Linked DNA regions of Homo sapiens. The protein of the gene in region 1 purifies or fractionates together with the protein of each later gene. This does not show direct contact. Each region holds a gene or a part of one and is shown in the gene's direction. Other genes may lie near its edges.

The links. Proteins that work in one complex are often made in the same cells at the same time.
Region 2: the proteins of ACACB (region 1) and PPM1H purify together in Homo sapiens (co-immunoprecipitation; one study listed by IntAct). This does not show direct contact.
Region 3: the proteins of ACACB (region 1) and IDS purify together in Homo sapiens (affinity purification with mass spectrometry; one large-scale study listed by BioGRID and IntAct). This does not show direct contact.
Region 4: the proteins of ACACB (region 1) and GRK7 purify together in Homo sapiens (affinity purification with mass spectrometry; one large-scale study listed by BioGRID and IntAct). This does not show direct contact.

What each region holds. Positions count from the first base shown.
Region 1 is NC_000012.12:109,245,587-109,249,086, forward strand, and holds part of ACACB (acetyl-CoA carboxylase 2), read left to right. Parts: intron 1-39; coding exon 40-162; intron 163-592; coding exon 593-862; intron 863-2,019; coding exon 2,020-2,117; intron 2,118-3,500. UniProt on the Homo sapiens protein: Mitochondrial enzyme that catalyzes the carboxylation of acetyl-CoA to malonyl-CoA and plays a central role in fatty acid metabolism.
Region 2 is NC_000012.12:62,645,151-62,648,650, reverse strand, and holds part of PPM1H (protein phosphatase 1H), read left to right. Parts: intron 1-14; coding exon 15-162; 3' UTR 163-3,500. UniProt on the Homo sapiens protein: Dephosphorylates CDKN1B at 'Thr-187', thus removing a signal for proteasomal degradation.
Region 3 is NC_000023.11:149,488,307-149,491,806, reverse strand, and holds part of IDS (iduronate 2-sulfatase isoform a preproprotein), read left to right. Parts: intron 1-139; exon of another isoform or gene 140-269; intron 270-1,366; coding exon 1,367-1,493; intron 1,494-3,500. UniProt on the Homo sapiens protein: Lysosomal enzyme involved in the degradation pathway of dermatan sulfate and heparan sulfate.
Region 4 is NC_000003.12:141,817,630-141,819,852, forward strand, and holds the end of GRK7 (rhodopsin kinase GRK7), read left to right. Parts: 3' UTR 1-1,723; downstream 1,724-2,223. UniProt on the Homo sapiens protein: Retina-specific kinase involved in the shutoff of the photoresponse and adaptation to changing light conditions via cone opsin phosphorylation, including rhodopsin (RHO).

The sequences.
Region 1 (3,500 bases):
ATGACTTCAAGTTTTTTCTCTTTCCTCTTCTCTCCCCAGGCTCTCTTTAAACTGTGGGGCTCCCCAGACAAGTATCCCAAAGACATCCTGACATACACTGAATTAGTGTTGGACTCTCAGGGCCAGCTGGTGGAGATGAACCGACTTCCTGGTGGAAATGAGGTAATAGCTCAGCGGAGCCTAACCCCTGGCTGGAGTCACCCCCTTAAAAATATTTTTGGGCCAGGTGCAGTAGCTCACACCTGTAATCCCAGTGCTTTGGGAGGCCAAGGTGGGTGGATCACTTGAGGTCAGAAGTTCAAGACCAGCCTGGGCTACATGGTGAGAACCTGTCTCTACATAAAATTTTAAAATTAGCTGTGTGTGGTGGTGTGCTCCTATAGTCCCAGCTACTCGAGAGACTGAGGCAGGAGTGATTGCTTAAGCCCAGAAAGTTGAGGCTGCAATGAGCTGTGATTGCACCACTGCACTCTGGCCTGCGCAACAGAGCAAGACCCTGTATCTAAAAAAAATAATAATAACTAAAATAAAATAAAAAGTTTTCCCCCAAAGAAACAAACTCATTTTCCTTGTGCATTCATCCCCTTGCCAGGTGGGCATGGTGGCCTTCAAAATGAGGTTTAAGACCCAGGAGTACCCGGAAGGACGGGATGTGATCGTCATCGGCAATGACATCACCTTTCGCATTGGATCCTTTGGCCCTGGAGAGGACCTTCTGTACCTGCGGGCATCCGAGATGGCCCGGGCAGAGGGCATTCCCAAAATTTACGTGGCAGCCAACAGTGGCGCCCGTATTGGCATGGCAGAGGAGATCAAACACATGTTCCACGTGGCTTGGGTGGACCCAGAAGACCCCCACAAAGTACGTCGTGAAACTGGCGGGGCAGGGTGATTCTGCTCAGCTACTACTGTATTTTCAGTGGGAGTGCTAGCACCTGCAAGAGGTGAAAAAAATCTCACTTATGTATAAAGCACAGATGTACATGTAGTGTATAAACAGGCATACAGTGTATCAGTGATACTAACATTTCACTGTGGCGGGGGGGATGGTGATGAGAAAAAAAAGATCTAAAAAGGCTCCTTAACGGGGATAATGAAAAAAGTCTATAAACCCTGAGCTGATATACACTGAGCGCTCCTGAATGCAGTGTGCACTGAGAATGCAGAGGTGATTGTGTCAACTCCCTGGCCTCATAGCGTTCTTAGAATTATGGCTCACACCTGTCATCCCAGCAACTCAGGAGGCTTGGGTGGGAGGATAGCTTGAAGCCAGGAATTCATGACCAAGCTAGGTAACCTAGGCAGCATAGCCAGACTTCGTCTCTACTAATGAAAAAACTAGGTGAGCATGATGGTGCCTGCCTGTAGTCAGCCTCAGCTACTTGGGAAGTTGAAGTGGGAGGATCACTTGGAGCCCAGGAGTTCAAGGCTGCAGTGAGCCATGATCATCATACCACTGCACTCCAGACTGGGCAACTGAGTGAGACCCCCCATCTCAAAAAAAAAGAAAAATCTTTGGGGAGTTGTATAGATACCAGCTTGCCATAAAAGGCAAGATGAATGAGGGAAGCGCACGCATTCTGTGATGTGAAATGACAGGGGACAGTCATCCTTTCCATTCAGAGCATGCATTCTCGGGGGCGATATTGCCCACTACCCCCAAGAAGACAGAAAAATAATTTTTGGGGTGGCAATAAAATAGTTTTTAACATATATACATATACAGAGTATGTAAATAGTGGTTAAACAGTGTATCTTGAAAATTAAAATTTCATGTTGGGGTGCTGGCAATAAGAAATAAAAATGAGATAGTCCTTAGAGGAGAGCTTAGCTCAAAGCAGAACTTCAGTTTATGGCTGTTATTAATACGGTATTTACATGAGATGTGTTAATGTGTCATTGACATGTTACTAACATGTTATTAACATCCATCCCTACGATGTTCACATTAAGAAAAAAAAAACAGTGGCTTTCAGTGCAGGGAACTGGATTCGTAGCCTCACTAAAGTATTTTTTAAGGGATTTAAATACCTGTACCTGACTCCCCAAGACTACACCAGAATCAGCTCCCTGAACTCCGTCCACTGTAAACACATCGAGGAAGGAGGAGAGTCCAGGTAAATAACTTATCAGGTAGCTCCTTAATTTTGCTCATGGTTAATTTCAGCTGTCTTCTTTCCTCGGGGCTTGTGGCGATATTTTCCAGTGGGGTGGTGGTGTTTGTATGATGGGAACCAATGCCTGTTGGGGGCACTGATGCCTTAAACATTTGTTAAACTCTCCAAGGTGAGTCCATCCTTGTCATTCTAAAATGAGTGACTCCTTTCACAAAAAATAGCACGTCATGTAGGGAGAATGAGATTGGATTCTCGTGAATCTCCTAGGAGCCGCAGGCTCACATTTTGTGACCAAACTGATGCAGCGGTGACTTGGCAAACTGGGAAGGTATGGGTGGGGCAGAGAGAGGTCTGTTCTTCGAGAGCATTCAAAGGCTACTATCTTTTCCAGGACAAGTTATGTTTTTCTCAGTGGGATTAACTGACTCAGGATTTCCTAGACTGGGTTTTTTGCAATGTTAGTGACAAGCTGGGGGGAAATTCCATAGTCAGATGAGTTTGGGAAACACTGGGTTAAATGAGATCTCATAAACATCTTTATTGCAGACCTTCTTAGTACCTGTAGCATGCTGTATTAGTCAGCGTTCTCCAGAGGGACAGGACTAGTAGGATATATGTATATATGAAAGGGACTTTATTAAGGAGAATTGACTCACATGATCATAAGGTGAAGTCCCATGATAGGCTGTCTGCAAGCTGAGGAGCAAGGAAGCCAGTAGTGGCTCGGTCTGAGTCTAAAAGCCTCAAAAGTAGGGAAGCCAATAGTGCAGCCTTCAGTGGCCAAAGGCCTGAGGGCCCCTGGCAAACCACTGGCGTGAGTCCAAGAGTCCAAAGGCCGAAGAACCTGGAGTCTGATGTTTGAGGGCAGGAAGCTTCCAGCATGTGAGAAAGATGAAAGCCAGAAGACTCAGCAAGGCAGCTTACTCCACCTTCTTTCACCTGCTTTTTCTAGCCGCGCTGGCAGCTGGATGACTGGATGGTGCGCACCCACATTGAGGATGGGTCTTCCTCTCCCAGTCCACTGACTCAAATGTTAATCTCCTCTAGCAACACCCTCAAAGACACACCCAGAAACAGTACTTTGCATCCTAAAGTTGACACTTAATATTAACCATCACACATGCTAAAGTGCATTGTGAATCTCTAACAGAGGCTGGCGGGACAGTGTTTCTCATTATGTGGCCCTGGAATTTTTGATTGATTGATTGTGAATGGGTTTCCTCTGTGTACCCCCATCTCTCTGTAGACCGTTGGAGGAATATGGGCCGAGGGTGATATTTCACTGAGACAGCCCCTGAACAGGCAGATATCTTTGGTTGTATAAACCAAAAAGTATCTGAGACAGGTCTCAATCAATTGAGAAGTTTATTTTGCCAAGGTTAG
Region 2 (3,500 bases), about 47 Mb from region 1:
GTTCTCCTGTGTAGGTACACACTGGCAGCTCAGGACCTGGTGATGCGTGCCCGGGGTGTGCTGAAGGACAGAGGATGGCGGATATCTAATGACCGACTGGGCTCAGGAGACGACATTTCTGTATATGTCATTCCTTTAATACATGGAAACAAGCTGTCATGAAAATGGCCCAGGGGATTGGGAGGACAGAGGGGAAGAAAGCTGGGATGCCTCTTGGCAGGACGGAACTGGGAAGTGCCCCAGCTGAGTTCCAAGTGATGCAGTCTCTTCCCAGCCCAAGCGGGGAGTTCATGGCCAAAAGACTATGCTTCAAGATGACCCTTTGGTTTCCATTTCTTCTTTAGTAACAGGTCAACTCAACAAGAGCAAAACACAAAGGCTGCTACCAAGTGTTGTTGTATTTCAGTTCCTTTCATAGGCCTCCGAGGTGGCCATTGACTATTTGGGGTATATATGTCATATTTATTTTATCTAGAGTAGCTGGGGCAGCCATTTTCAGGTGTAAATGGCAGAGGACTCTTCAGCCTGTCAAGCTGCCAGCTTATCTACGGGTTAAAAAGTGCTGCATTGGAAAGTAGGGGGTCATGCCTCAAAATGTAAGTAAGTGCCCACCTTCTAGGAAGCCTGAGGTTTATTTCAGGGATTGCCGTCTGCCCCCCGCCCCCCTTCTCTTTTTTTCTTCTCTGTTTCTATTCTTTTATGGCAGTGGTGGAGTGAGGCAGGGATTTTTTTTTTTTTTTTTCGTGTTTTTGACATTCCTTGAATCTGTTTTTTATTCCCCTTCCACAGAACAGGCCTGGGACTTTCCAACACCCTGCTAAGGAAGTTCTGTGTCCAAGTCCCACCCAGGCTGGGTTGTCCCCACCTCCTCCAGCCCACACAGCCCAGGCAGCATCCGGGCCAGTGCCCTGCATGACAGAGGGTCTTTGTTGTGTAATGTTTGTTCCCAAGTTGCATTTTCTAACCGAATCAGTGTGTTTTCATGAAACTGAGTGTTTCTGTGGACCAGTAGTTCCTCTGTTGTCTTCAGTGGTCTTCCTGTGTGGCTCAAGGGTTCTCTGTGAGAGTCTGGATTTTCATTTCTGGAATGGCTGGCCCCATCCCACTTTTCTGTATCATGGGGACACATATAAAGCAGTGTTTAATAGAGCAGTTTAAGAAGTTGCTTGCATCTGTTGGTTCACCATGGCTCATCTGGGGACCATTTTGGATTCATGTTTCATGGCTTGTGACTGTCCCCAAGCCCACTCCAAACAAAGTGTAAGGATCAGAGTTCTGTCAAGGAGCAGCAGTTCTGCTCTCCCCATCATCTTTGTGCAAGGCCCCTCGGGGGGCACTTTAATAAAAGAATTTGAAATGGGTTGACTGGCCATTCTCATGCTGTGCTCCCTGTCTCTTCTCTTCTCTAAAGAATCATGTCCCAGCTCCTCAAGGTCCCTCTATGGTTCCACATCTGAGTGTTCGCCACAAGAGCAGCAGCAGCAGGCACAGTGCATGCCATATCTACCTGCTGCTTCTCTGCTGGGAGGAATGGCCAAGTAGATTATAAAACTCACTTCTGTCTCTTAGGCAGACTTGTACGGCCACAAAATTACCTAGTCTTCTTCCTGCTGAGCTACTGAGGTATTGCCACCATTTTGACAACTTTGAGTAATTAAAACACTCTTCTGACCCAAAAAGGAAAAAAGGTCACTGACGTGACCCCCCCAGCATGCTAGAGAGCTAATTCCAGTTCTCATATTTGTTTGAATTTCTTCCCAGAGGAGAGGATAGGAACCTCTCCTCCAGGGCAGTAAATCACCTGCATTTCTGGAGTTGTCGGTATTGTATTCGAAAAGGCCTGGAGCCCCTCCTGCTCAGGAAAGAACTCATTCCAGGGTGTGGAGACAGTGCCGTCTGGCAGGTGAAATACTGTGGGAATTCACGCCACCAGGTGTTTGTGCAAGTGTTGGCCTGGGAAGAATGGGACTTCGGCCTTGTCAGGAGTTGTCTTCATCTGCAGCACGTTTCTTCCTCCTGCAGTAGATCTTAGCTACCCCAGATATCTCTATGGAGAGAAGTTTGTGGAAAATGCTTTGCTTCGTGGCAGAGTCTGATGCTGTAGGAAAACCTTCGGGCATGTGACAGCAGTGTGGTCCACTCCCTGTTCTGCCCTGGCACTCAGAGTCATGTGTAAGTAGGAAACCTGAGCAAGTCTTCCGTGGAGGACCCTGAGCTGCCGTCTTTGGGATCCTTCCTGTGTCCCCACCGTCTTTCATTTATTTGCTTTCCTGGGCCTCTATCTGGGCCCTACCTTGAGCTTCTCCAGTTTTATTCAAGCCACCAGAGTAAGAATTTGGGTGTAGATGTCACAACTACCTTCTACTCAATTCACCAATTCATTTACTGCTATGGCACGTCTCAGGAATAACTCTAGAAACCTCTAAATCGAAATATTATAAAATCTTGAGCACTTAGTCCTGCTGGTTTTAGTTAGAAAGGCATCCAGGAATTGTTTTCCTACGCCCCCTTGAGTGGAAAGATCTTAGTTAGAAGATAAAGTCAAGTTTGTGTTCAGGGGATGGGAGGAAGACTATAAATAAGATGAAGAAATCAAAAGTAGGAAACATGATGTAAACGAAGCATGGCAGATCTGTCCAGCACTGATATTGCTCTATAAATTGAGCTTACTCAGTTTTGGCCTTATTTTTTTACCCAGGCCCCATGTCACCCAGTCCTAAAACAGTAACCGTGTCTACATAACGGGTTGGCCCCTGGTGCATCCCTGGAAAAGTCAAAGGACGCACACTTCGAAATTCTGCAGAACGTATTTATACATGGTTCAGAAATCTTGCGTATCTGACTTATAGCCAAATCTGCTTGCTCGAATAGCCTCAGAGGAAGTCTTGTTTAATAAAAACCTTTTGATTTCCTAGTCAAGTCTTTATGGTTGTCTCGAGGGGTGTGTGGCTACTTTAATGAAAGGCTTTCCTGCTCTAAATCTCTTTGCTGGGCTGGGCCTCTTCAGACTATCTGGTGAAACTCCTTTCCTTAGAACAAACTCAGTCCGTCCATGCTCTGTGGCATTTTGCTAGATGATAACCAAAGCCTTATTCCTGTAGCCAGTGTCAGCAGTCAGAGAGGTGGAGGGTGTGTTCTGCTGTGGTTATGCATACCTATCTGCTGTTCTTGAGGTGTAAAAGGAAAGGTGAAAATCGGGCCAGGCCAAGTACTCAGCTGTCTTAATAGGATGAAGCCTTAAGCAGTGGAAATTTCAGTTATTTTCCACAGTATTCCATTTTGGAGGATTTGGGGTGTTTACTTTTTAAATTCTTGAACAACTTAACCTCCATGAGGCTTTGTGAAGTCAGCTGTGACCACCCTCCTCTTACTGTGTTCTCAGTATTCATTCACTTCCAGGGAAGAATGACAGCCACAGGGAGATGGTGGTGGGCAAGAATGAGAGTCCCAGGATCCAGATTTAGCCTCAGATCTTCCCCATTCAGGAAGGGTTTTCCATT
Region 3 (3,500 bases), on another chromosome or scaffold:
GTGTCCTCACTGGATGGGGTGGCTCATCAAGGGTGAGGACCTTGTCTGCTTATTGCCTTACGTCCAGGGGCTAGCATAGGAAGGAGGGAATACCTTTGTATAGGACATAGCCATCCTGACAGGTGTCTTTCATCCCCAGGAGGACCAAAGTTCCACAGGTTTCAGACTGAAGACTTCATCTACCAGAAAGTATAAGTAGGCCAGGGCTCAGCATAATCCTGCTGGAAGGCTAGATGTATATCTTTTCTCTTGACTGCAAGTGAGAACGGGTGAGTCTCATGATTGTCCTCACCCTGGCAGTGATGAGAAGAAGCTGGTGGGTCCAGCTGATAAGTCAGGGGCTGGTCTGCGAAGACACGGCTCTCTTCTCACCCCTCTTTGGGGTGGAAGATTAATTTTTGTCCTTAGCATTTGTGAACCAGGTTGGGAATGAGAGTCAGCCCAGGAGGGGCCGGTGGCTCATTTACTTCAGGGCATGATCTGGCTGTTCCCAAAGTGCCTCTTGGGTTCAGGGACTGTGAAGGACGTGCTGCTCTCTGGTATCTCCTTTGCTCTTCTCCTGCCTGCTGACAGTTTGTTAGAAATGAGCTCCACGTAACGGCCATAGTTCATGAAGATATGCAGTTGTAATCTGCTGTTGGGTTAGCAAGTGATCAGAGGGAAAGGCTCAGTCAGGGTTGCTGTTATGTGTTAAATTATGAATTTTTTTTTCCCTGAAAAGGGCTGTTGACATCCTAACCCCCCAGTACTGCTGAATGTAACCATATTTGGAAATAGGTTTATTGCAGATGTAATTAGTTAAGATCAGGTCATATTGGAGTAAGGTGGGCTCCTAATCCAATATGATCGGTGTCCTTTAAGAAGAGGGGAGAGAGACACGGGAAGAACACATGAAGATGGAGACACAGTGATACAGCTGCAAGCTGAGGAATGCCAGGGACTGACAGCCACCACCACCAGCTAGGGAGAGGCAAGATTCTTCTACTTAGAGCCTTCAGGGAGAGAATGGCCCTCCCAGCACCTTGATCTTGGACTTCTAGCCTCCAGAGCTAGGAGACAATACATTTCAGCTTAAAACAACAGAGCAGTAGGTGACACATTCATCCACTGTGATCTGTGCCCTAAAGTGAAATCTGATTTGCTTAGAAATGTATCTTATTTGTAGACCTACAGATTTTGCTGTGACTCTGTGGGTGAAGTGATGCTGATGGTAGGGAAAGGAGTGTTACATTTTGGCTGAGAAAATCATTAAGGGCATCAACTAAGGGGTAGGGATTGGGAGAGATGCACAGGCAAGCATTATCTCTGTATGCCTTGGCAATTTAAATTGCAGTCACTCTCATTTTTATTTTTTTTCAATTTGCAGCGGAAAATCCGCCAGAGCTACTTTGCCTCTGTGTCATATTTGGATACACAGGTCGGCCGCCTCTTGAGTGCTTTGGACGATCTTCAGCTGGCCAACAGCACCATCATTGCATTTACCTCGGATCATGGTAAGCATTTTGAAATTCCCTGGTGAGTCAAAACATCTGAACTTTCCTGTGAAACATGCTTTGCAAAATTGCCATTGACATAAACATGGGTGTGTTCTCTTTTGTGAACCAGTGGTTCACAAACAAAGTGGGATCCTGGGGCATTTTTATGATCAGCTTGTTAGTCCTGAGACCTCTGTCTTAGATGCTTGACGGATAGGTGTGGGTGGGTGGGGGAGGGTCTTGCAGCAACTTTTTTTTTTTTCTTGATGAATGCAGCAGGAACCCTCCATTTGTGTGGCAGAGCTCTTGTAACCCCCATTTTTAACCTGGAGGGTTGGAGGACTTTTAGTTTGGGTGGAGAGGATCCAGAACAATCCTGGCAGAGCCCAGCAAGCTCTTCACGCCTGGCTCCAGCCCTCCCACCCCTATCCCCGCTGTCTTCTCTGCCGAGAGCCTGGGCTTTTCAAGTCTTTATCTCCCCCTAAGGCTGTTTCCTACTTTTCCAAAAATGAAACTATCTTTTTAAAAGCATTTTTTAAATTCTTCAACATTCCAAGAGCAGGGAATAAAACAGCAGCTCCCCCCGTTTCCCACTCACATAGTCTTGTTCCTCTCATCCTCACCCACTCCCCCATCTCTGAATTGTTTCGAAGCAAATCCCAGATGGTTCCATTTTCCGATCACTGTCTCTGAAAAATATTGCCTCTTTTGAAGTATAACCATAATACTGTTATACTTAGAGAAAGGAAAATAATTTTCATATCATCAAATATGAAATAGGATAATAGTAAATCATAACATGTGCTTATCATGAAAAGAAAAAAGGATACAGAGCATGTAATTCAGGGCCAGAACATCCTGCCCTTTTCTCCCACCTGCTCAGGGCTAACAGATGACAATGGATTAGGGATCCATCTGCCAGCCATCAGTTGTGCACATATGCACACAGGGATATATGTTATACATGTGTATGTTTGTAACATGTATGTCACAAGATGTGATTGCTTGTTCTGTGTGTACTGTTAACGTTCCCTGGTTTTGTACACTTAATGTCATAGGCAATCTCTGTGTCATTTCTCAGAAGCCTACCTTTTCCCTTAGAAATGTCTGTAATATTTTATTATATATGGAGGTGCCATAATTTTTCACATATTCCTGATTATCTGCCATCTGCTTCTGAGCCCTCGGTGCCCAGTTTCCTCTTCTCCACGAACACACTCTGTTGTGAGGCAGTTGCCGTAGATTACAAATAGCCCATCTCAGAGTCCCCTCCTGGGACATCCTCCATCAGAACCGCCTGGGAGCCAGTAAAACATGCTGGTTTCTGCAACTGGTCTCAGGAGCTCGCAGTTCTGGGCATGGGAAAGTGCACTTTAACAGGTGTCTCAGGTGGTCTGGCCACCTCTCCCTGAGCTCATCATTCCCTGGGCCTCCCTATGTTGCCACGTCCTCATCTTGGGCCTCTGGGGCAGGAGCCAGAAACCTCCTGAGCTGCCTGTCAAGGTCATCGGGCTTGTTCCTCCTGATCTGGAGATGGATCCTTGGGGCCCACACAGGCACGCGTTCTCCTTAGCCAGACTTCCCCGTATTTGCTCCTGGCTGCAGCAGCACAGGCTGAGGCCCGGCACCAGATGTTCAATACGATCTTGCAGTCAGGCGGTCCACAGCTATTTCTGTAGCATTTGCCATGTGTCAGACCCTGTGCCAGGCCTGGGGGCCCCCTCTGCCTGGTGCAGGGCAGCTCACAAAAGCTGGCAGAGGCCGAAGGCTGCGTGCCAGTATTCAGAATGCCACAGAGCGCCTGGCTGCTGTACCTTCAGAGCCTCCACAGGCACCCCAGTCAGAGTTCCGGGAGTGGATTCCTGAGGTCGCACTGCCAGGTTCCCTCACGTTGCCATCCTGCAGGCTTCTCGATCCTTGACCTTTTAGATTCCCGCCACACTGAATCTAAAAGGGACAATGTGACCTCTAAGCTGGTGGCCTAGGAGCCTGCCGATAACCTACCCATTCATCAGCCCTCGTGGG
Region 4 (2,223 bases), on another chromosome or scaffold:
TATCATAATGTTGAAGCATTTTAAACATAAACATCCATGACATCTGTGAATTAAAGCATTCTGTAAATTTAGTTGAGTCCTTTAAGTAATATGGTACAAATTGCTTCAACTTGCACTACCATATGCCATCGGTTCCCAAACTCTGCTGAACTTTGGAATCATCTAGGGATCTTTTAAAAAACTAATGCCTGATTCCCATCCATAGACATTCTGATCCCCACTCCCAGGTATGAGAACAGCTTGACCATTTAGAATTTCAGAAGCTCCCCAGGTGATTCTAATGTGCAGCAGAGTTTGGCAGGCACTGCTGTGCACATTTGAATGTTATTACATTCAATCTTATTTTGGTTGCTCAAAACTTCAATCATACATTTTGATGGCAACTTTTCAAATGTCCCCAAAGCATGTCATTTTAGTAATTGCAGTATAAATGAAACAAGACAGTCTATTCATCTTATGGCTTCTCTTGTCCTTGCACACTTTAGTTTCTCACACGTATCTTGGGAGCTCGGTCTCTTGGCTATTTCAAGTCCTGAAGGAGACCTATGGGCTTAGAAATTGAGTTGAACAGGCCAGGTGCGGTGGCTCATGCCTGCAATTCCAGCACTTTGGGAGGCCAAGGCAGATGGATCATGAGGTCAGGGGCTCAAGACTAGCCTGGCCAACATGTTGTAAACCCCGTCTCTACTAAAAATACAAAAATTAGCCCGGTGTGGTGGTGCACATCTATAATCCCAGTTACCCGGGAGCCTGAGGCAGGAGAATTGCTTGAACCCAGGAGGCGGAGGTTGTAGTGAGCCAAGATCGCAACATTGCACTCCAGGCTGGGCAGCAAGAGCAAGACTCTATCTCAAAAAAAAACAAAACAAAACAAAACAAAAAAAACAGAAAAGAAATTGAATTGAAAAAATACTAACCATCATTTCAAGTGGCTGCCCAGCCAACACTGTATGGTAGAATTAGCACTTCTCAAAAGCACAGCCAAGGTGAGAATTCTACAGCTGCGAAAAAATATTTGGGATACAAATATAAAGCTGAGTGATATTTTTTAAAAGGATGTATGTGCACATAATAAAATCTAAATTTATCCCAGTGGTAAAAAAAACCTGGCTGAAGTCAGTTTAAAAGTTTTGTCCCTTGAGTTAAGGATTCAAGAGCTGCAAAAGTGCCGGTCAAAAAAATGTTGGTTAACTGGAATCTGAATAACAGTAATACTCATCTACAAGACAGCATTAACCACACCTGGAACAAGTTAAGAAGAAGCCCTCTGAGAGTTGAGGCCTCGGCCGGTGCACCTGCGGCTCACTTTCCCGCTCCTCCTCCATCCTCAGCATGCTCCCTAATGCTCCAAATCCTAACCTAGGATGCTTAGATTTCTGTGTCACCAAAGCAGGATAGAAGTGTGCCCAGGAGATTTTTTTTTTTCCTGAAGTAAGAAAGTAAATTAAAGTTTGGTTAAGTTTTGAACAAGTCCCTTTTAACAAAAAAACTGATTGGTGATTAACAGAAATCCAATTAACCAGAGCACTCCAATGGTAGAGTTCTCAGGATTGGGCTTTATAGACGTTAGACATTTAAAAACAACATTGGTTATTTGTTGATTATGCCTTAAAGCTGGCAGAGGGACAAATGCAAACTAATAATTAAAGATAAATATCTCAGTTTTTAAAAGGACAAAAAATTTGGAGAGATAAAAAAATAAAAATGTCTTGTTGCATTGGTTCCTTAGTGTGAATTGCCTCTGCTTTCAATAAACTTTAAATGCAAATCTGTTTTATATCTTAGAACTAACTTAGGAAAATAACTGAATAAGTAGTTGTATTAATCCATTCTCACACTGCTATAAAGAAATACCTGAGGCTGGGCATGGTGGCTCACGCCTGCAATCCCAGCACTTTGGGAGTCCAAGGCAGGCAGATCACCTGAGATTAGGAGTTTGAGACCAGCCTGGCCAACATGGTAAAATCCTGTCTCCACTAAAAATATACAAATTAGCCAGGTGTGGTGGTGTGTGCCTATAATCCCAGCTACTAGGAAGGCTGAGACAGGAGGATTGCTTCAACCTGGGAGGAGGAGGTTGCAGTGAGCCGAGATTCAGCCACTGGACTCCAGCCTGGGTGACAGAGCAAGGCTCTGTCTCAGAAAAAAAAAAAAAAAAAAGATTAATCCTAGTTGTCCTGGAGGACTTGGAGCCACTGTCTGTTGGACTTACTTCACCCATAC